2 separate regions of the Homo sapiens genome follow, and region 1 is linked to region 2. Evidence: fine-mapped expression QTL. Tissue or cell type: gastroesophageal junction. Region 2 holds a variant in brackets; the other region holds the start of a gene. All regions are shown on one strand. Distances are between the middles of the regions. Region 1 holds the start of AKTIP (AKT interacting protein). Region 2 overlaps RBL2 (RB transcriptional corepressor like 2).

Region 1 (8,394 bases), 28 kb before region 2:
CTCTTTGGTTTTCTGAGTGTGCCACTCTAGATAAAACTAACTCAAGCCTTTATCATCATTCCAAATGCTTTGAGACCACAGAGTGAAGTGGTTTCCCAAAGATAAACTGAATCAAAGAGAACACTGCTCTTATGGCTGTGGGTACAGTCATCAGCGTGCTGAGGGAGTGGGGATTATTTGCGGTGTCAGACCACGTTCAAAATGCTGTTTGATTATAAAAGGAAATCAGTTCTCTTCAGCCCTGAATGAGCAGCCGTATCATATATTGGTTGCTTTTCCTTAAGACATAAATATCCGCAGTGGTCCATCAGCTACCCTGATTTCATTTTGAAATGTTGTAGTCTGTCTGTAAAATTCATTCCTCCACCCGCCCACCCACTTGCTCAGGGATAGGAGTTATGGGTAATGGGATAGGGAGGAAAACATGATGCAACCAAAACCTGGAAGCACATGTGTGATGTTATAAGCAAGAACCGTATCGCTCGATGAGGCTATGGAAAGGAAGAAAGCCACATCATCCGTCTATAGCAGCATTTCTAAACCTTCAATAATTCTTAAAAGTTTGTGATTTCTGTCTTGTCTGAGGATCATTGTTAACTATAGGACAACTATCTGATCTCCCTTAAATCCATTTACTTAAAAAAAACAACAACATTAAATGCCTACTTTGGTCTCATCCTAAACATTATTACCCATAAAATAATGGCTTTAATGTGCTAAGTATATTTTTTCAAAGACATTAATATGTATAGCTAGATCATCCTCCCATATTTTGAACAGTATATGTAATCAGTGACATGTATACAGGAATCTACTTTTCAGAAAAGGACTTGGGGGCAAATGGATTGCGCTAAAAACATCGGCTTATATGTGTGCCTGTGTATGAAACATATGTATTTTAACAACCTTCAACATTTTATCCTTTCCTTCTTTCTGTGAAGGCCTTTAATAGTTAAGTCAGTGATCTAAACAGCTTTGTACAGTTACTTTTCCGGAGTCCAAAAGATGTATGATTCAGGGAATATTTTGCTGATTAGAACATGAGCAGAAGTCCTGAATACTCAGAGATCACATATCTATTAAGTCTGGATGCAAAAAGAACCTTTTGGTGCAAATATATCAAATATGCTTCAAAAATTGAGAATAGGAAATGTAATATGAAGCGATTTAAAATGTTTTATAGGTAAGGTTTTGGGTCCATTGAGATTTTTCTCAGCACTTTATGTTTTAGTCTTAAAGAAATGGTACCTTGAGGCCACCTCCTCATTTCCCTTTGAATAAATCATCCTGATTTTCATAATGAGTTGCTTTCTTGGTGCAGACCTGTGGGCGTGCAGGTAGGTGTTTCAAATGTACTTTTGTTTCTTCTGTCCTTCATTTGGCAAATATTTATTGCATGCCTACAACATCTAGCTCTTGGGTGCCGGGGAGACAATAGAAAGCAAAAAAATGGTTCCTCCTCAGGAGCTTACAGTGTGGGAGACAGACACTAATAATCTCCCAAATCAACAGCAAATTGCCCCCAAGGAAGTAGTGTTAGAGCTGAGATCTGTGTAGGGGATTGAAGAGAATGAACTGGGCAAAGGGAACGTTCACTGCGAAGGCCCCTTTTGTGGCAGGGCAGGTAGGGGAGCAACTCCCTTCCAAGGAACTGGAAGAATGTCAGAGTGGCTGGAGTCTGCAGCCACCTGGGGCTGGGACACAGCCATGGTGAGGAGTTTGGTCTTTGCCCAATGGGGAACCACTGAAGGGCTTAAATTCCTCAAGAAAATGGAGGTTCTGTCAGCAATGAAAAAGGGAGAAGTGGGTATTAGGTATACAGGCAATAGTGCTTACAGAAACACCCCAAACATACCTACCCAAAACACAACCCAGATTTTCCCATTTCCCACTGTCCCAAACCTGCTTGTGGTTCACTGTTTGTCACCTCAGTGAATGGCCTCACCATCCATCCTGTAGCTCATGCTAAAAATCTAGGTGTCAGCCATATCTGCCTCTTCATCCCCCATACCTAGTCCATGGCCAAGCTCTGTCCACCCCACCTGTATGAATCCATCAGTGTTGCTATAAAGGAATACCTGAGGCTGGGTCATTTATTTTTAAAAAGAGGTTTATTCAGCTCATTGTCCACTTCCTTGGGGCAATTAGCCATTGATTTGGGAGATGACTTGATTAGCATCTATCTCCCGTAGCTCCATGAGGAGGAACAATGTCTGTTTTGTTCTCCAACGCCTCCCCAGCATTTAAAGCCTAGATGTCATTAAGCATGCAATAAATATATGTCAAATGAAAGACAGAGGCAACTAAGTATAAGAAGCATGGCACCAGCATCTTCTGGTGAGGACCTCAGGAAGCTTCCATTCATGGCAGAGGGAGAGGCCAGCAGGAATCATTTGGCAAGAGAGAGAGCAGTGGTCAGGGGAGGAGAAGGTGACAGGCTCTTTTTGACAATCAATTCTCTCGGGAACTAATAGAACTCACTCACTACTGCCAAGAACTCACTACTGCCAGGACAGCACCAAGCCTTTCATGAGGGATCAGCCTCCATGACCCAAATACTCCCACCAGGCCCCACTTTCAACATTGGGGGTCACATTTCAATATGAGGTTTGGAAGGGTCAAACCATATCCAAACTATATCATCCCGTCTTAAACATCTCTGGAACTCATTCAATTCTCCATCTCTACCTTCAAATTCATGCGATTCTCTGTTGCCTGAACTACTGCCATGGTTCCTCAACTGCCCCGTGAGCCTTGTGCCCCTACAATCTGTTTTCCGCACAAAGTGATGTTTTCAAAATACAAATCTGATCATGGCTCTCCTCTGCCTAAAGTCCAGGCAGAGATCTAGGGAAAATCTCAGCCCAAGTCGATCATGGCGGACTCCTTCCACTTGCCGTTGACTGGGTTTCGTTGTGGCCAGAGACTTACTTCTGGCCATTGAAACCTGCAGGCATTTCTTCTGCGGAGCTTCTGGGAAAGGTAGTCATGTATTTCAAAAGGGACCACTGGAAGAAAGGGATACTTTTAATTTTGTGAGATCCTGGGTGTGCCGCGGCCATCTTGCTACCAGCCTGAAAGTGCAATTCCAGGGACTGCAAGGAAAGCAGAGCCTGAAGACCAGGGCACCACCTCTGGAGACAATCCTCCCATGGGAGAGAAATCCCCTTGCTAAGTAAGCCGGTTTGAGTTGGCTTTCCTGCCATGTGCAGTCTGATGCTGGTGTGCGTCTGAGTCATCCGGTGCCAAGTACGCAGTTGATGACATGCATTGGAAGCTCAGTGGATAGATGTGAGCTGGAGAAATACCTATGTGGGTCCTCGGTGAAAACTGAAGGTTGGGGAAAGGAGGAAAGCAGAAAAAAAGCTTTGCAGAGGATAATGAGCTTCAAAGAAGATTGGGAGGAAATGGGCCACAGAGGTGCCAAAGGAGACCACCTGTGGCCTGAAAAAAGGATTTCCTGCTTGCCTGCCTTTCTGTATTAAGACTCGTATTAAAAGGCATGATAACATTCCTAAATGTGTCCTAAGGGGACAAAAGGAAGTGGCTCAGAAGTGTTTTCAGCTAGGGGAGGAAGCTGGGTTTCAGAACCAACCCTTGGGATTAACATCAGGAGAATTTGGCTTCCTGCCCTTTAATAAGTCACTTACCAGAATCTCAGAGGCAACCAAAAATGGACCAAACAACCCGGCCAGAGAATGCGGCTTCTGAGTGTAAGACACTGAGGCGGTGTCACAGACAGGTCAGTGCCTCTGGTGTCTAGAAAAGGGGCAGGGGCTTGCGGGGAGAGGGCTGTCGCGCAAGTGTGGAAGTGGAGTGCCGAGATTGGACGGACTAACCACGGGGAGGCACCGTTGGTAAGAACAGGCCTGGAAAGCAGCTGGCAGCAGTCACAGAATTAGGCCAGAGAGAGACCTCCATGGGAAAGCAGACGGGAGGTCCAAATGAGAGCGTGTGAATTAAAAAAAAAAAAAAAAAAAAAGACCAGGAACTATGTTGCTATGGGAGAGGTTCTCCAACTTCAGTGTGCGCCAGAATCAGCAGCGAACTGTGACAGATGTGGATTCCTGGTCCTCAGCCTCCCCCCTCCCCCCAGCCCCCGGCCCCCACTCGGATGCTGCAGGTCGGGGCCGACACACACAGATTTACAAAGCTCCTCTGGCTGCTCTAGTGCCCAGGGCCCACTTGGAGCTGAGCTCCCTTCAGCTCCAGCCTTCAGCTCCTGCACTGATGGAGAGAACGGGCGTTTCTTGATGCCACGCCAAGTGTCCTTCTGACCCCTGGTACCCTGTGGGCCCGACGTGGCGGCCTCGGGCCTCGCAGCGCCGCCCAACGCAGTAGGACCTAGCGATGGGAGCCACTGGGCAGTCGCGCGGCCCGGCCCTCCCCAAAAGCTTGGCTTGCAGACGTTAGCGTATGCCCCAGCCCCTGCGCATGGCGGTTGCGCTGTGGGCTGTGCGAATAAACCTCCGGGAAGGTCTCCGTGGTGACTGGCAGACGCCCTGGCCAATTGTGACCCGGCGCTTGTTTGTCTCTGCCCCATCCCTCCCCGGGGGGCCGATACTTCCATGACTGACAGGCCGTCCCAGGCGCTGTTACGTAAGGGGAGGGTCAAGTGCAGTCCCACCCAAACCGGGGTGATTTGATTTGCAGGACCGAGTGTGTTCTTCCCAACGCCCCCGGAAGAACGTCTTTGACGGGCAGGTGTGAGAGCCAGTTGGCGCCGGGAGGCCAGGCGGAAGCCTCGGGCCCCAGGATCGTGCAGCAGGGGGCGGAGCCCGCTGCCGAGGGCAGGGCAGGGCAGGGCAGGGCGGGGTGGGGCGGGGCGGGGATCAAGCAGGGGCAGGGCTGGCGCTGCGGCGGGAGATGCTGTCGGGCCGCGGCGGCGCTTGGCAGCCAGGAGCTCTGCATTGAAGGCACTGGGGTGAGGCTTACTGCCCGGCAGGCTGGTGGGTACGCGAGGGCTGAGGTGTCTGTAAATCTGGCCGCCAGCCTCCACGGGCCCGGCATTTGTCCATCTTTCTAGGCGCTCGCGACTCGGCGACGGCGGCCGCAGTGGGACACGGAGGCGGGGCCGGGCACCTGTGCGCGTTTGCAGGCACCTGCTGCGCTGGCCGCCTCGCAGCCCGGGACTGCTGCTGGGGACTGCGGCTGGAGCTGGGCTGGCCCGGCCCGAGGGAGAGGGGGGCCCAGCTGGCTCGCCCCGGCCCGTGCCCGCCCTCCCCGGCCGGGTCCCGACCCCGAGCTCTGGTTAAGGGGGCGTCGCCGGGCCCCAGAGCCCCCCCACTGGAGGGGCCCGCGGCTCCCGGGCCAGCATCGAGCTAGCTGCGAGGCCAGGACAGGGCCCCCGCCTTGCATCACCTCGAGACAGGTTTGTCCAGATTCCCTGAGTGCTCAGAGACGGGTTTCCGCCCGCGGTGAGGGTGCCGGTCCGAGGCCGCCGCGGGTCCCGGCTGTCCCCAGCGAGCCTGGCCCGGGCCGTTTTCATCTTTTTTTTTCTGGCCCCTGCTCTGTCTCCTCTTAACGTGTAATTTCTTAAGTCCGATTCGGGGTGATGTGAGTGCGCTGTGGCATGTAGAGTAACAGCAGCACTCATGTTTTAGCCTAGTTTTAGCTCTGCCACGCACTGTCATTCGCGCAGGCTGAAGACCCAGACTTCTCAGCTGGGTGATGTAAAGGAATGCAGCCGTGGCCAAACAGGCAGAAATTCTAAAATTGTTTCCAAGTGACAAGGATGTAACATGTCTTGCTTCCATCTATGTCATTCCTCTCAGAACATGTATGCTGTGCTTGTCCTAGACTAGACCCTGAAAAGTGTGCTACAGTTTCTCGTGATTATGTTGCTGCTGGAAACATTGGATTAAAAGATCCATAGCAAAGTTAGGCAGCAGAAGACAATACCTCCTGCTTAATGACAGGCAGAACTGGGGACAAAATTTACTGGATTCTTAAAGAGAATCCTAACGCGTTAGACCTTTAAGAGACTTTACAGGTTTGCACCAGCCCATTAAATGTATGTTGTGGAGCACACCACTGTGTCCCAAGGGATCCGGTCCCGTGTTAGGTGTGTCCTAGAGGACACTGGGGTGCTGCACATTACTGCTAGATCTGAAAATCAGTGTCTTCATTTGAGCCAAAGGGGAACATGCCCCCGCACATTTTTGATATCTCAAGTATATTCAGTGTGTCATACTCACCTTTAAAGGCAGATTTGCGGAGAACTGTTGTTACTTATTGCATGTTATCCATGCTAGTAGAAGAGCCAGGATCTTCATTCCTCTGATTTAATTACTGGGTGGCATTTTCTCTTGGAAAACAAAACAGCAGTAATGGGCACTGGCAAGGTATGGATGACCTGGGTTGGGTACGTCCCTGGATGTCACAAGCTCGTCAGAGAAGACAAATTATTGCTGATTGGGGACATTTAGTACATGGTTTGCTCATGATCTGTTTAAGAAATTAGGAAAACGTTGCTTAGTTTTGACCCTTTTCACCTTCAGCCGTTTGATTGGTGCAAGTAGGAATTCAGAGAAGGAGCTCTGCTTTAAAGGTAACAGAGCCTGGGGGGAAATACCAGGGCAGGGAAGTTGCTGTTCTTACAGCTGGGCTTGGCTGCTTTTCCTTTGCTTCTTTGTATTTTTAGTAAATGACCCACTGACTTTATGACCTTTGAGACATGCTTTCTTATCCACGACTTGAAGCTTCGGCTGGAAGATCTGTACTTGTGAAATGTCTCTCTTGCGTGCCTGTGTTGCATTTGTCTGGATTGCTTGGCAGTTCCTTAAGTACATGATCCTGCAGTTTCTATATGTTTCGAAGTTGTAGAAGGCAGTTTATTGGGGGATGGTACTGACAGGACTCAGGTAACTACTTTTGTCGTCTTAGTGACATACTTGTGCTGTGCCTTCCTGTTTTCTCTTATTTCTTTGGCTAATACTTTGCTGGAGGAATCATTTTGTACTCAGGTGAGTTGAGGCAGCGCTTAAATCAGCCTCCTTGTATCTATTGTTTGTTCCCATAACCCTGGGAACAGTGATACAACTTATGTGTATGTGGGTACAGTGCATTCTGAGTCTGGCTTTCCTGTTAGTTAAATGCCGAGATGTGCTAGTAACAACTGTTGTCCGTATCTTCTGAATTTCTGGCACCAAAGCTCATCTGTGTCACTGAGTAATCTGAATCCTGGCCAAGGGACCTGGTGCACAGATTCTTATAGACATCTAAGTGTGAAAGAAATTAGAACCAGAAAAGGAGGTGGGTATAGAAGGAAACTATTTCTGAAGATGCCTGAAGACCTTTTCCTAGGTTTTTATAACCCCTTGTTATATAACATTATATTGTATATCCAGGGTGTCATAATTAGTTATTCATCATTTCAGAAGTCTTAACTGTTGGCCGGGCGTGGTGGCTCATGCCCGTAATCCCAGCACTTTGGGAGGCTGAGGCAGGTGGATCACTTGAGGTCAGGAGTTCGAGACCAGCCTGGCCAACATGGTGAAACCCTGTCTCTACTAAAGATACAAAACTTAGCTGGGCATGGTGGCAGGCACCTGTAATCCCAGCTACTCAGGAGGCTGAGGCAGGAGAATCGCTTGAACCCAGGAGGTGGAGGTTGCAGTGAGCCGAGATCACACCACTGCACTCCAGCCTGGGCAACAGAGTGAGACTCCATCTTAAAAAAAAAAAAAAGTCTTAATGGTTGGTGTTGGCATGTTTCTATGTCTTCCCGTCTTGTTTTAAGGTAAAGTGAATGCCGAAGACAGAAGATTTGGATGATACACCACTGACTTTCTTTGTTTGGAATACACGTTATGAACCCTTTCTGGAGCATGTCTACAAGCTCTGTACGCAAAGTAGGTATAGTTGATAAATTCAGTAAGAAAACCCATTTGCTTCTGTGTCTGAAAATAGGGTCAGAATGAAGGCTAAAATAATCTGTCACGGTCACCTGTAATCTTGACAAAATTACCTGGTTTTTCTAGTTAAGGGTTTACTCTTGAGAAATAATTATTTTGTTGGTTGAAGTCTGTTTCTGAGACTAGGATTGCATCTCAAATAGAAATCGTTCTGGTCATCACAATTCTAAGATGATTTAGGTTATATTTACACATGATGAAATTTGTAACATTGTAGTTTTCTACTAAACTTCAAGGTTCTACGGTTAGAACAGCTGTGGGAAAGGCTAGTCTAATATCATTAAATCAGACTTGAGGGGCACTAATTTAATTTTTCTAAATAAAATGATTTTTTAAAAATATATTTTCATTTTAGGAAAGGTTAAAATAGGCAAACAATAAGAAAATAAAAACCAGCTGGGCACGGTGGCTCATGCTTGTAATCCCCAGCACTTTGAGAGGCCGAGGCGGGCAGATCACGAGGTCAGGAGATCGAGAC
Region 2 (12,465 bases):
TCGCTAACATAGCATGATGCCCGTAATTAAGCTTTGGATCACTGTCTGCCTCAAGGACACTGTTTTCTTCCCCTTAACCTGCTTCCTGCTGAGTGCCCTTCCATACCTCAACAGCTCCCTGACTTTTCAACATTAAGGCCTGACTCAAGCTTCCTTCCCCTTCTTAGAATGAGGTGGCTGTTGCCACATACATCTGTGCTAATATGACTATTGCACTGCAATGTCAAAAATGTCAACTTCTCCCATTAGCCAGAGTCCTGAGGACACTGCCTGTCCCAGAAACAGGCCTTTGGTAAGGAATCCAAAATTTCTTTCCCTAACAAATGTGGAAAATTGTTACAAATGGGATAAACACAAATTTCAGGTTTACAGCAAAATGTACAAATAGGAGAGGGAATAAAAAGAAATCCAAATCCCTTACCCTGTTTCCCACCCTAAAATTCCACCCCCTCCCCCTCAAAAAAGGCAAAAAACAAAACAAACCCTGGGTTTTGCTTCATGAGGACTGACTGATCACTGCTCCCTGGCAGCTCTCATCACTCTAATGAGTGCCTAAGCTTAGCACAAACCCTGTTTCTAGCATCTGAAGCATTTTGAGGTTAGTAAAGGCCAAGATTGATGTTAGGCTCACCTTTGAAGGACTGTTGCTGAAGTAATAGAAAATCTTTTCTCGAGGAGAAAGCATTGTTTCATTTTTATGTGGGGAAATGTAGACAGGATGATTTTGAGACAACTGTATTCGGCGAGGGGAGCCTGTTCTTACAAATGGATAGGGAGAGAGTGGAGGAGCATCCATCTGTTTAAAAAAAAAAAATCAGTAATTCTAAGAAAAAAATTTATAATTATTTTTACTGAAAATGATTATTGAGTGAAGAGGTGTGCTAAACCAGTAGTTTTATGAATGACAGAGTGATGTATTAGCAATAACTTAACCTAAAGAAAAATATTCTAATAGCAAACCTTAAGTGCTTAGTTTGTGCCAGTTATTATTTTAAGCAATTTTTATACATTATGTCATTTCATCCTTACAACAACCCCATATGCTAGGAACTAGTTATATTCCCATTTTATATATGAGGAAATGAGGTACAGAGAAAATTTAATGATTTGCAAGGTTACCACCACTGTTAAGTACTGGAAAATTTGAACCCATGTAGCCTGTCTCTTGTACTACTATACTTTGTAGGGACTCCAAATACAATCTTACTCGTTTAATGCTTAACAACAGTAGAATTTATATTGGTTAGGTAAATTACAGACCTCCTCAGTTTTACTTAATAGAATTATTTGTAAAACTAGCTTATTTATGAGACAGAGTCTTGTTCTGTCACCCAAGCTGGAGTGCAGTGGCACAATCTCAGGTCACTGCAACCACCGCCTCCCATGTTCAAACAATTCTCCTGCCTCAGCCCCCAGAGTAGCTGGGATTACAAGTGTGTGCCACCACGCCCAGCTCATTTTTGTATTTTTAGTAGAGACTGGGTTTTACCACGTTGGCCAGGCTGGTCTTGAACTCCTGACCTCAAGTGATCTGCCCTCCTCGGCCTCCCAAAGTGCTGGGATTACAGGTGTGAGCCACCACACCTGGCCAAAACTAGTTTATATACGGACCAGGTGAATGGTCCATATATAAATCATAAATGATTCCTCAACACTCATGAGTGAAAAAAGTATGAAATAATCCCTGTCATACTTACATTTGCCTGTGAGTACTTCATGGCAAATGTCTTAATCTGTTTGATGTAGATGTTGTTGTAGAACTGAATGAGGTCTCCCCTCTCCTCTTCTTCCATGTCACTGTTGGCACCTGTGAGGCGAGTAGGTGTGGGAGGAGCACTGCTGGGCTGTGGAACTGGCAAGGTGCTGCTTGACCTCATAACTGGACTGGAGTCTCTACTGGCTGCAGCCAGGAGAACAAAGGCTGTCAGTACAAAGGCTGCTAATATTGACTGTTTTAATTTTTTAAAAGTAGGAGAAAGGGAACAGCTACCTGCACTACTTGCTAATAACAGTGAATAGGCACTCTGTTCTTCACACCAAAAAGCAAAGCTCAGCTAGGATATTAACTTTCTCCCTATGCCATAACCATAGCAAGGGCTTTCTGAGTAGTGTCCATTAATAAGTTACACCAAATTTTCTAGGACCTAAGCCCTGTACTAAGTGGTACAAAGCAACAGGCAGGGGATGGTATTTCCATAGCATGGTTCCAATTGACATATCAGACCTTTCTGGAACTCAGGCAAGCAGATTCCTCCCTGAAAGCTCTAATTCTCCTGGAGAAAAATGTTACATAATATGTGCCCCAAAGCTATGTAATGGACAGTTTTGCCAGCTAGAATATGGTTTACTGATCTATAAAACACTTTCATAGTTTCTATAGTTATTTCATTTAGTAATGCTTAGTTACTTCTTCAAGGCCTAAAAAGTAAGAAAAGCTCCTAATTTTGTCTTGTAGTTCACAAAGATCCCACTTACTTCTATCTTTGTTTAGTTCTGTTGGAGAATTCTGATGGCTTCTGCTATCACTGCTGCCAGAATTTCTTCTTTTTCTTTTCCCTTTTATCAAAACACTTCTATACACCTTTAGAGAAACAATGAGAAGGGGACATAAACTAGTATTTGTTGAGCACACCCTTGGTGATAGGACCTTCACATATGTTACTTGGTTTTCACAATAACCTGTATAGCAATAGTTGTCCTCAGAACAGGTTGAGAAACATAACTCAAATTATAACAGATCCAGGATTCAATCAGAGCCCATCTAGCATCACATGCCAAGTACTACCTGCAGTACTACACTGCAGTGACAGCACCCAACCATAATGTCAAGTCATTCTAAGTAAGATACACAGATCTGGCCGATTTGCCTCTCAGAGATGAATGGTAATAAAGGCAAAGTGGGTTTTAAATTTCCATGTGACATTCTGTTGGTTAAACCTACAGTATGTTTACTAAACCAGAATGAAAGGTGACATAGAAACCAAGTAACTTCTTAATTCCTATCTTGTGATTTTTCTGAATTAAGAAGGCAATCAAATATTTAACATTGTTGCCTTTTGAGGAAAAGAGACCTTAATCAACATGTGACATCAAGAATAAAGATTAAAGTAGAAACTTCCCTTAAGTAGAGTCCCAGGTGTTTATCTTGGAAAAAAGGCCACAGAGTCAACTATGGTTAATTTTTTGTATTCATCACAGACTTTAAGCTTTATTTTTCAGCCCATAGAGAAAATGTAGTTACCTGGCTCCGGGCCTGCGGCTGAGTCCTATAACAACGCATAATGTTCTGGAAGGACTTATCTTCTTTTGTGACCTGGCAAACAATAAGAGTGCTCTGAGAGACATGGCAACTACCACCATAATAGTGTGAGGAGCTCTGTGAACCTGCTGCCCAGTAAAAGGGGTGAAAATTATATAAAAGCTATTTAAAGTCTCTGGAAATGGTATTAACGGCATATAGCAAATGAAGATACATCGATTCAAGAATATCTATTAAAATTCAATAAAAACAATAGGAGTCTATAGTATGTGAATCAAGACTTAGAGGCCAGGTGCGGTGGTTCACACCTGTAATCCCAGCACTTTGGGAGGCTGAGGAGGGTGGATCACTTGAAGTCACGAGTTCAAGACCAGCCTGGCCATCATGGTGAAACCCAGTATCTACTAAAAATACAAAAATTAGCCGGGCATGGTGGCACATGCCTGTAATCCCAGCTACTGGGGAGGCTGAGGCAGGAGAATCACTTGAACCTGGGAGATGGAGGTTGCAGTGAGCTGAGATTGAGCCACTGTACAGCCTGGGTGACAGAGCAAGACTCTCTCTCAAAAAAAGACTTGGAGTAGAAAAGTACAGTAAATGAAATGAAAAATTCACTAGAAGCTAGGGAAAACAGATTTGAACTAGCAAAAAAAAAAAAAAAAGGATTAGCAAACATGAAGAAAGAGATTGTGTGATCTGAGGAACAGAGAAAGAATGAAGAAAAACAGCCTCAGAGAAATGTGGCACACCATTAAGGAAATCAACATACGTGTAATGGGAGAATCAGGAGAGGAGAGAAAGAAGCAGAAAAAAATGTTCAAAGAAATACTGAAAACTTCCCAAATTTATTAAATTACATATCCAGGACATTCAGTGACTTCCAGGTAGGATAAACTCATCCGTACCCAGATATATCACAGTAAAAATGTTCAAAGCCAAAGAAAGAAAATATTAAAAGCATCAAGAGAAAAACAACTTTTCAGTTACAGGGAAACCCCAATAAAATAAAATTTGACTTCTAATCAGAAACTACAGAGGCCAGGAGGCAGTGGGATAACATTCAAAGTGATGAAAGAAAAAATATTAAACTAAGAATCCAGTATTAAAAAGTTACTCAAGATTTTTATCTCTGAAATGTCAATATTCAAAATTTTTGCAAGTTATCTTTCAGAAATGAAGGTAAAATAAATATACTCTCAGATAAACAAAAACAGAATTTGGTGCTAGCAAACCCCTTACAAGAAATACTACACAAAATTCTAGAAGCCAAAAGCAAATGCCCCTGGACAACACTACACATGAAGAAAGCCAAGAGCACTGGTAAAGATAATTATGTAATCGTAAATACAGTATAACTGCACATTTCTTCTCCTTTCTTAACTGATTAAAAAATCAATTGTATAAATAATATATATATATAATGTACCCATAACATACAAAAATGTAACATATTTGCCTACAACAGTACAAAGGAGGTAGGCAGGAGCAAAGCCATATTGAGCAAAGGAAATTACTCCAGATGGCAACTCACATACACAGGAATGAATAAGAGAAATAGAAATAGGCTGGGTGTAGTGGCTACTCCTGTAATCCCAACATTTTGTGAGGCTGAGGCAAGTGAACTGCTTGAGGCCAGGAGTTCGACACCAGCCTGGGCAACATGGCAAAACCCCGTCTCTACAAAAAAATACAAAAATCAGCCGGGCATGGTGGCACATGCCTGCACCCTGTAGGCCCAGCTACATGGGAGGCTGAGGCAGAAGGATCATTTGAGCCCGGGAGGCAGAGGTTACAGTGAGTTGAGATTGCACCGCTGCTCTCTAGTCTGGGCGACAGAGCAAGACTCAGTCTTAAAAAAGAAAGAAAGAAAGGAAACCAGAAATTATTAATAAGGTTACTAGAGCAAAAGTTTTAAATACATACTTACACTCCTTTCCTTTCTGCTACTTTAGAAGTCATAAAATTGTATCAATAATTATAACAATGTACTGGTGGAGTTGTACATTTATGGATGTAATATGTGTAACGAAACAGTTAACACTCCTATATCTCACTGGAATTAAGTCAGTATAATCTGAAGCTGATTTTTGATAAGAGATATATGGTAAGCCCTAGGGCAACCACTACACACACACACACACACACACACAAAATGAAACCAAAGTACTGACGTTAAAATGCTACTTTAGAAAATATTGACCTAATGCAAAAGCAAAGCTGCAAAGGCAAAGGGAAAGACATGAAAACAAAAAGTAAAATGGCAGATGTAAATCCAATTATATACATAGTCAAAAGGCAAAAGAAATCCAAATGTATTTTATCTACAGGAGACATTTTAGATTTAAAAAATACAAATACATTCGAAAATGAAAGGATGGAAAGAGGTATACAGACAGCAACCATAAGAAAGCTGGGTGACTATATATCTCACACTATAAATCAGACTTCAGGACAAAAAAAGTTATTAAAAAGGGACATTCCATAATGATAAAAGGATCAAGCCATCAGGAATCTATAACAGTTATACACATACCTAATAACTGAGCACAAAAAATACCTGAAGCGAAAAGTGACAGAAGTGAAGGGAAAAGTAGACAATTCAGCAATAATATTTA[T/C]AGATTTCAGTACCTCACTTTCAAGAATGGAGAGATGATCTAGGCAGATCAACAAGGAAACAAAACACTTTACTAACAATATAAAACAATTAGACCTAACAGACATCTACAGAACACTCTCCCCAACCTCCACAGAATACACACTGTTCTCAAATGTACTTTGAAATTCATTAGGATAGAGCATATATGCTAGGCTATAAAACAATTCTTAATATATTTAAAAGAACTGGAATAAAATGAAGTGTGTTTTCAATCACAATGAAAGTAGAAATCAGTAACAAATTTGGGAAACTTACAAATACGAAGTTAACAACATATTGCTACATAACCAGTGAGTCAAACAGAAGCCAAAAAAAGAAATCAGAAAATACTTTTGAAATGAAGACACACCATACCAACACTCATGCAGCTAAAGCAGTGCACGGAGGAAAATTTAGAGTTGTTAATGCTTACACTGAAAATGAAGAAGGGCCAAGGGCGGTGGCTCACACCTGTAATCCCAGCACTTTGGGAGGCTGAGGAGGGAGGATTGCTTGAGCTCAGGAGTTCGAGACCAGCCTGGGTAACACAGCAAAATCTCGTATCTACAAAAAATTAGCAGGGCATGGTGGTGCACGGCTGTGGTCCCAGCTACTCAGGAAGCTTAGGGAAGAGGATCACTTAAGCCCTGGAGGAAGGCTGCCGTGAGCACTACACTCCAGCCTAGGCGACAGAGCAAGATGCTGTCTCAAAAAAAAAAAAAAAAAAAAAAAAAAAAGATATTGAAATATTAGAAAGGTATCTTTTAAAAGATACTGATATCTACGTAAAGGATTTGGGGAAAAAAGATATTAAGAGAAATAGTAAATTAATTACCTAAACATCCATCTTAAACCATCTTAAAACAACAGAAAAGGGCAAAAAGTAAGCCTCAAGTAAGCAGAAAGAAGGAAATAAGATTATATACTAATGAATAAAGAACACAAAAATAGATAAATGAAACCAAAAAGCTGGTTTTTAAAAGAAAAAGATCAAGAAAATTGACAAACCTTTAGCTAGACCAAGAACAAAAGGGAGGAGTCTCAAACTACTACAAAAAGCAGGGCACAGGGGCTCATGCCTGCAATCCCAGCACTTTGGGAGGCCAAGGTGGATGGATCGCTTGAGGCCAAGAGTTTGAGACCAGCCTGGGCAACATGGGGAAATTCCATCTCTACTAAAAATACAAAAACTAGCTGGGCGAGGTGGCACAGGCCTGTAGTCCCAACTACTCAGGAGGCTGAGGCACAAGAATCACTGGAAACCAGGAGGCTAAGGTTTCAGTAAGCCAAGATCATGCCCCTGTATTCCAGCCTGGACAACAGAGTGAGACTGTCTCAAAAAACAAAACAAAACGAAAACTACAATCATAAAAGGAAAAGGACATTACTACTGACCTTAAAGAATAAAAAAGAACAGAAGGAAATATTATAATTATTTGCCAACAATTTAGCCCAGAGGAAACAGACAAATTCTTAGAAAGACATACACTACCACAACTGATTCTAGAAGAAACAGATGATCTGAATAGACCTATAACAAATAAGAGACGGAATTATTCACCAATAAACTTCCCACAAGGAAAATCTCTGGTCTCAACAGCTTCGCTGCTGAATTCTACCAAACTTTAAAACATTAATACCAAGAAGCTCATATCCATGGGTCTTTCAGGCAGCTGTAAATTAAAAAAAAAGGCAAAGGAAAAAATATAATACCTAAATATAGAAGAGAACACTTCCTACTCAATTCTATGAGACCATTATTACCCTGATAATAAAACCAGACAAAGCCACAACAAGAAAACTACAGACCAATGCCTCTTATGCATAAGGATAAAATTCCTTAGCAATCACTGCTGCATGTGGAAACTTGAAAAAATAAATATTTTTTTTAACTGAAAACAAATTCCTCAACAAACTGTTGGCAAACCAAACCTAGCAACATATAAAAAGAATTATAGGCTGGGCACCGTGGCTCACGCCTATAATCCCAGCACTTTGGGAGGCCGAGGCAGGTGGATCACCTGAGGTTGGGAGTTTGAGACCAGCCTGACCAATATGGAGAAACCCCGTCCCTACTGAAAATACAAAATTAGCCAGGGGTGGTGGCACATGCCTGTAATCCCAGCTACTTGGGAGGCTGAGGCAGGAGAATTGCTTGAACCTGGGAGGCGGAGGTTGCGGTGAGCCAAGATCTCGCCACTGCACTCCAGCCTGGGCAACAAGAGCGAAATTCCATCTCAAAATAAATAAATAAATAAATAAATAAATAAAAGAATTACAGCAGCCGGGTGCAGTGGCTCACGCCTATAATCCCAACACATTGGGAGGCTGAGGCATGAGGACTGCTTGAGCTTAGGAGTTCGAGACCAGCCTGTGCAACAAGGTAGACCCTGTCTACAAAAAATTTAAAAAATTAGCCAGGCATGGCAGCATGTACCTGTAGTCCCAGCTACTCAGGAGATGAAGGTGGGAGGACTGCTTGTAGTGAGCTATGATCTCACCACTGCACTCTAGCCTGGGTAACAGAGCGAGACACTGTCTCAAAAAAAGAAAAAAATAAGACTTACACACCATGACTGAGAGGGATTTACACCAGAAATGCAAGGCTGGTTTAACATAGGAAGATTAATCAGTGTAATATACTATATTAATAGAATAAAAAAAATAAGCACACGATCATCTCAATGGACACACAAGCATTTGACAAAATCTAATGCCCTTTCATGATAAAAAAAACACTCAATGAACTAAGAAAAGAAGGGAACTTCCTCAACCTGATAAAGGGCATCTATGAAAAAAACCATAACTACTATCATACTTTAATAGTGAAAAACTAGATGCTTTCCACCTAAGATCAAGACAAGGATTTCTGCTTTCGACAGTTCTGTTCAACTATACTGGAAGTTCTAGCAAGATAATTAGGAAAGAAAAAGAAATAAAAGGCATCCAGTTTGGACAAGAAGTAAAATTATAAGCAGATTACATGATTTCCTACATAGTAATCCTAAGGAATCTACTAGAAAACTATTAGAACTAATAACTTCTGCAAAGTTGCTGGATACTAGATCAATATACAAAAGTGTTTTTCTATACACTTGCAATGAACACGTTAACAATGAAACAACTACACTTGGAATAGCATCAACAAGAATAGGAATAAATTTAACAAAAGAATTGCAAACATACTCTGAAAAGTACAAAGCATTGTTGAAAAAAAAACAGAAGATCTAAATAAATGGAAAAACATCCTATGTTCATGGATCAGAAGATATAAAATTGTTAAGATGGCAATACTCCCCAAATGGATCTACAGATTCAGTGCAACCCTATCAGAATCCTAGCTTATTCCTTTGTGAAACTGATAATTTGATTCTAAAATTCATTTTTCAAGGGACTTCGAAAATAATCTTGAAAAGAAAAAAAAAGTAGGAGCACTCATATTTCCCAATTTCAAAACTTATAAGAAAGCAACTCTCTAATCTAGAGAATATGGTATTGCATAAGGATAGGCATATAGTCCAGTGGAATAGAATTTAGAGTTCAGAAATAAACCCAAATGTTGTCAACGGTCAATTGATTTTAAAGGAGGGTACCAAGGCCATTCAGTGAGGAAAAAAATCTTCTTTTCAACAATGGTGCTGAGACAACTGCACAACCACATAATCAGAATGGAAATGGACTGCTACCTCATACCATACACAAAAATTACTCAAAATTGATCAAAGACCTAACTATGAGATAAAACTATAAAAATCAAAAGACCTTGGGTTTGGTAATGGATTCTTAGGACACCCAAAGTGCAAGTAACAAACCAAAAAACAGGTAACTGGACTTCATCAAAATTAAAAACTTTTATGCTTCAAATGACACTATCGAGTAAGTGAAAAGATACACCGAATGGGAGAAAATATTTGCAAATCATACATCTGAGAAGGTAGTTGTATCCAAAATAAAGAATTCCAACAACTCAATAATAACATAATTTTAAAATGGGCAAAGGATTTAAAGATATTTCTCCAAATAAGATATGCAAATGGCCAGTAAGCACATGAAAAGATGCTTGACATCCTTAGTTATCAGGCAAATGAAAATCAAAACCACAATGATATATCACCCAATACCCGCTAAGATGGCTATAATAAAAATAATAAGTTGGCAAGGATGTGGAGAAACTGGAACTCTTGTGCATTACTGGTAGCAATGTCAAATGGTGCAGCTTCTGTGGAAAATGGTACGGTGGTTCTTCAAAAAAGTTAAACATAGTATCACCATATGACCCTGCAGTTCCACTCCTAGGAATAAACTCAAAAGGACTGAAAATGGGCACTCAAACAGGTACATGATATACCTGTTCACAACAGTGCTATTCACTATAGCCAACAGTTGGAAACAGCCCAAATATCCATCAGTGTATGAGTGGAGAAAAAAATTGTGCCTATCCATACAATGGAATATCATTCAGTCATAAAAAGGAATGAAGTACTGATACATGCTGCAACATGGGTAAACCTGGAAAATATTATCCTAAGTAAAAGGAGCCATACACAAGAGGTCACATATTGTACCATTTCTATAAACGATTAAGAACAGATAAATCCATACAGCCAGAATGCCAACTGCTGGTTGCCAGGTGCTGTGGGAGGTAGAATGGGGAGAAACTACTTAATAGGAAAGGAGTTTTACTTTGCAGGTACGGAAATGTTCTGGAACTAGACAGAGGTGGTGAGTATACAACCATTTATTACACTTAGTACTGTAAATGTGCTAAATGCTCCTAAATTGTTCAACTTAAAATAGTTAATTTGGCTGGGCCCAGTGGCTCATGCCTGTAATCCCAGCACTTTGGGAGGCCGAGGTGGGCAGATCACCTGAGGTCAGGAGTTTGAGACCTGCCTGGCCAACATGGTCAAACCCCATCTCTACTAAAAATGCAAAAATTAGCCAGGCATGGTGGCACATGGCTGTAATCCCAGCTACTCGGGAGGCTACGACAGGAGAATCGCTTGAACCTGGGAGGCAGAGGTTGCAGTGAGCTGAGATGCACCACTGCACTCCAGCCTGGGTGACAAGAATGAAACAACATCTCAAAAAAAAAAAGAAAAACCCAATTAATTTTATGTTATGTGAATTTCTCCTCAATAAGTTATTTAAACAAAGTAAGATAGTAAGTGTTAATGAGATAGTGGAGAAACTAAAATCTTTATTATACTGCTGTGTAAGTGTAAAATGGTACAGTACTTTGGAAAACAATCTAGCAATTCCCTAAATAGTTAAAACACAGTTAATGTATGACCCAGCAGCCCATTCCTAGGTATATACCCTAGAGAAATGAAAATACATGTCTATACAAAAACCCAAACACAAATGCTAATAGTGGTATTATGCATATATGCCAAAAGTAGAAACAACTAAAATATACATTAGCTAATAAATGGATAAAAATACTCTCATATAACTATACAATGGAATATTATGTTCTAAAATTGTGGTGAGTATTGCACATATCTGTGAATATACTAAGACCCATTTAGTTGTGCATTTTAAATAGGTGAATTATAGAGCATGTAAACTGTATCTCAAGACAGTGGTTAAAAAATGTTCTCAGTAATGAAGACCTATCTTTGCCTTTACAATTCCAAATGGTACTCACCTTTGCCATCACATAAATGGCACACATTAATAACTGGTCCAGATGTCTGTCCATCATAAGTTCAGGACACTGAATTATGGAGAATTCAAAGCAGGTCCAGATTTTTTTCCTCAATTCATCTGAAATATCTAGTTTGGCACAGAGATCCCGAAGGCGGACAGCTGCTAAATGGTATACCTAGGAGATAAAAACATTTCAAACTTTGTTTAACACTTGTATTTCCCAAGCTCATGCTCTGATAAGGTATGTGAAAAATTACCTTTCTAAAGAAAAGCGATAAAGAGCTGGTCTTCCTGGGTCTATTACTACTGCTGGTTACAGACTGGCCTTGCTTCTGCTGTTGGCCACCTGGGGAAATCTGTTGAATGGCCACTTGACCAGGGACTTGCAAAGTTGTTCCTGTCACCTGTTGAGAGCTCAGACTTCCAGCCAGGGCCTGAGCACTGAGGGGCTGGATGGAGCCTGTCACAGCTTGTGCCTGCCCCCCAACATTGACTTGGACAGGGAAGAATGTTATCCCTCCATTTTCATTGGCAATACCTAGTGACAGAGAAAAAAAGCATGAAGAAAATGTTGATAATAAGAGGTTCTCCGGGCAGAGGTTTACAATTTCTGCTCTCCCAAACCCTCTCTCCCCATCACTCCTCTGTCCCCTATGTCACTCTAGCCAAACCTCGGGTAACTTTTCAATACATGCCACAGAGAAGGAACTCAATATCCAACTCTGCCTTCCTTACCTTGCACAGGAATGGTTACCGTTTGCCCATTGTTGGCTGTGACAGTGGCGGTTGCCATGGTGACCAAAGTCTGTCCAGGAACTGGTGTGACAGAAACAGTCTCCCCAGATACATTCTGCACAGGGACAGCATTGACTAGGGGCTGTGGGGGCATGCGCCCAGGCGTCCCTCCATCAGAGGGGCT

Evidence for each region.
Region 1: it holds the start of AKTIP, and the variant in region 2 is fine-mapped to the expression of AKTIP in gastroesophageal junction (GTEx, PIP 0.97).

What each region holds. Positions count from the first base shown.
Region 1 is chr16:53,499,677-53,508,070 of GRCh38, reverse strand. AKTIP (AKT interacting protein) reads left to right here and starts at 4,862. Exons shown (of 10, transcript NM_022476.4): 1 at 4,862-4,924; 2 at 7,742-7,853. The coding sequence starts at 7,812. It overlaps LOC124903690 (a long non-coding RNA gene), which reads right to left and starts at 3,691. Exons shown (of 2, transcript XR_007065069.1): 1 at 3,651-3,691; 2 at 2,093-3,330. RefSeq lists silencers at 3,695-3,784, 4,505-4,744, 4,765-4,834, 5,095-5,394 and enhancers at 4,105-4,204, 4,665-5,164, 5,165-5,666.
Region 2 is chr16:53,470,002-53,482,466 of GRCh38, reverse strand. RBL2 (RB transcriptional corepressor like 2) reads right to left here. Exons shown (of 22, transcript NM_005611.4): 15 at 12,282-12,465; 16 at 11,804-12,084; 17 at 11,545-11,721; 18 at 3,242-3,313; 19 at 2,476-2,581; 20 at 1,698-1,900; 21 at 632-796. Among named protein-coding and RNA genes, the nearest start is that of AKTIP, 27 kb to the left of the region's middle. The variant T/C (reference allele first, on the strand shown) is at 5,875.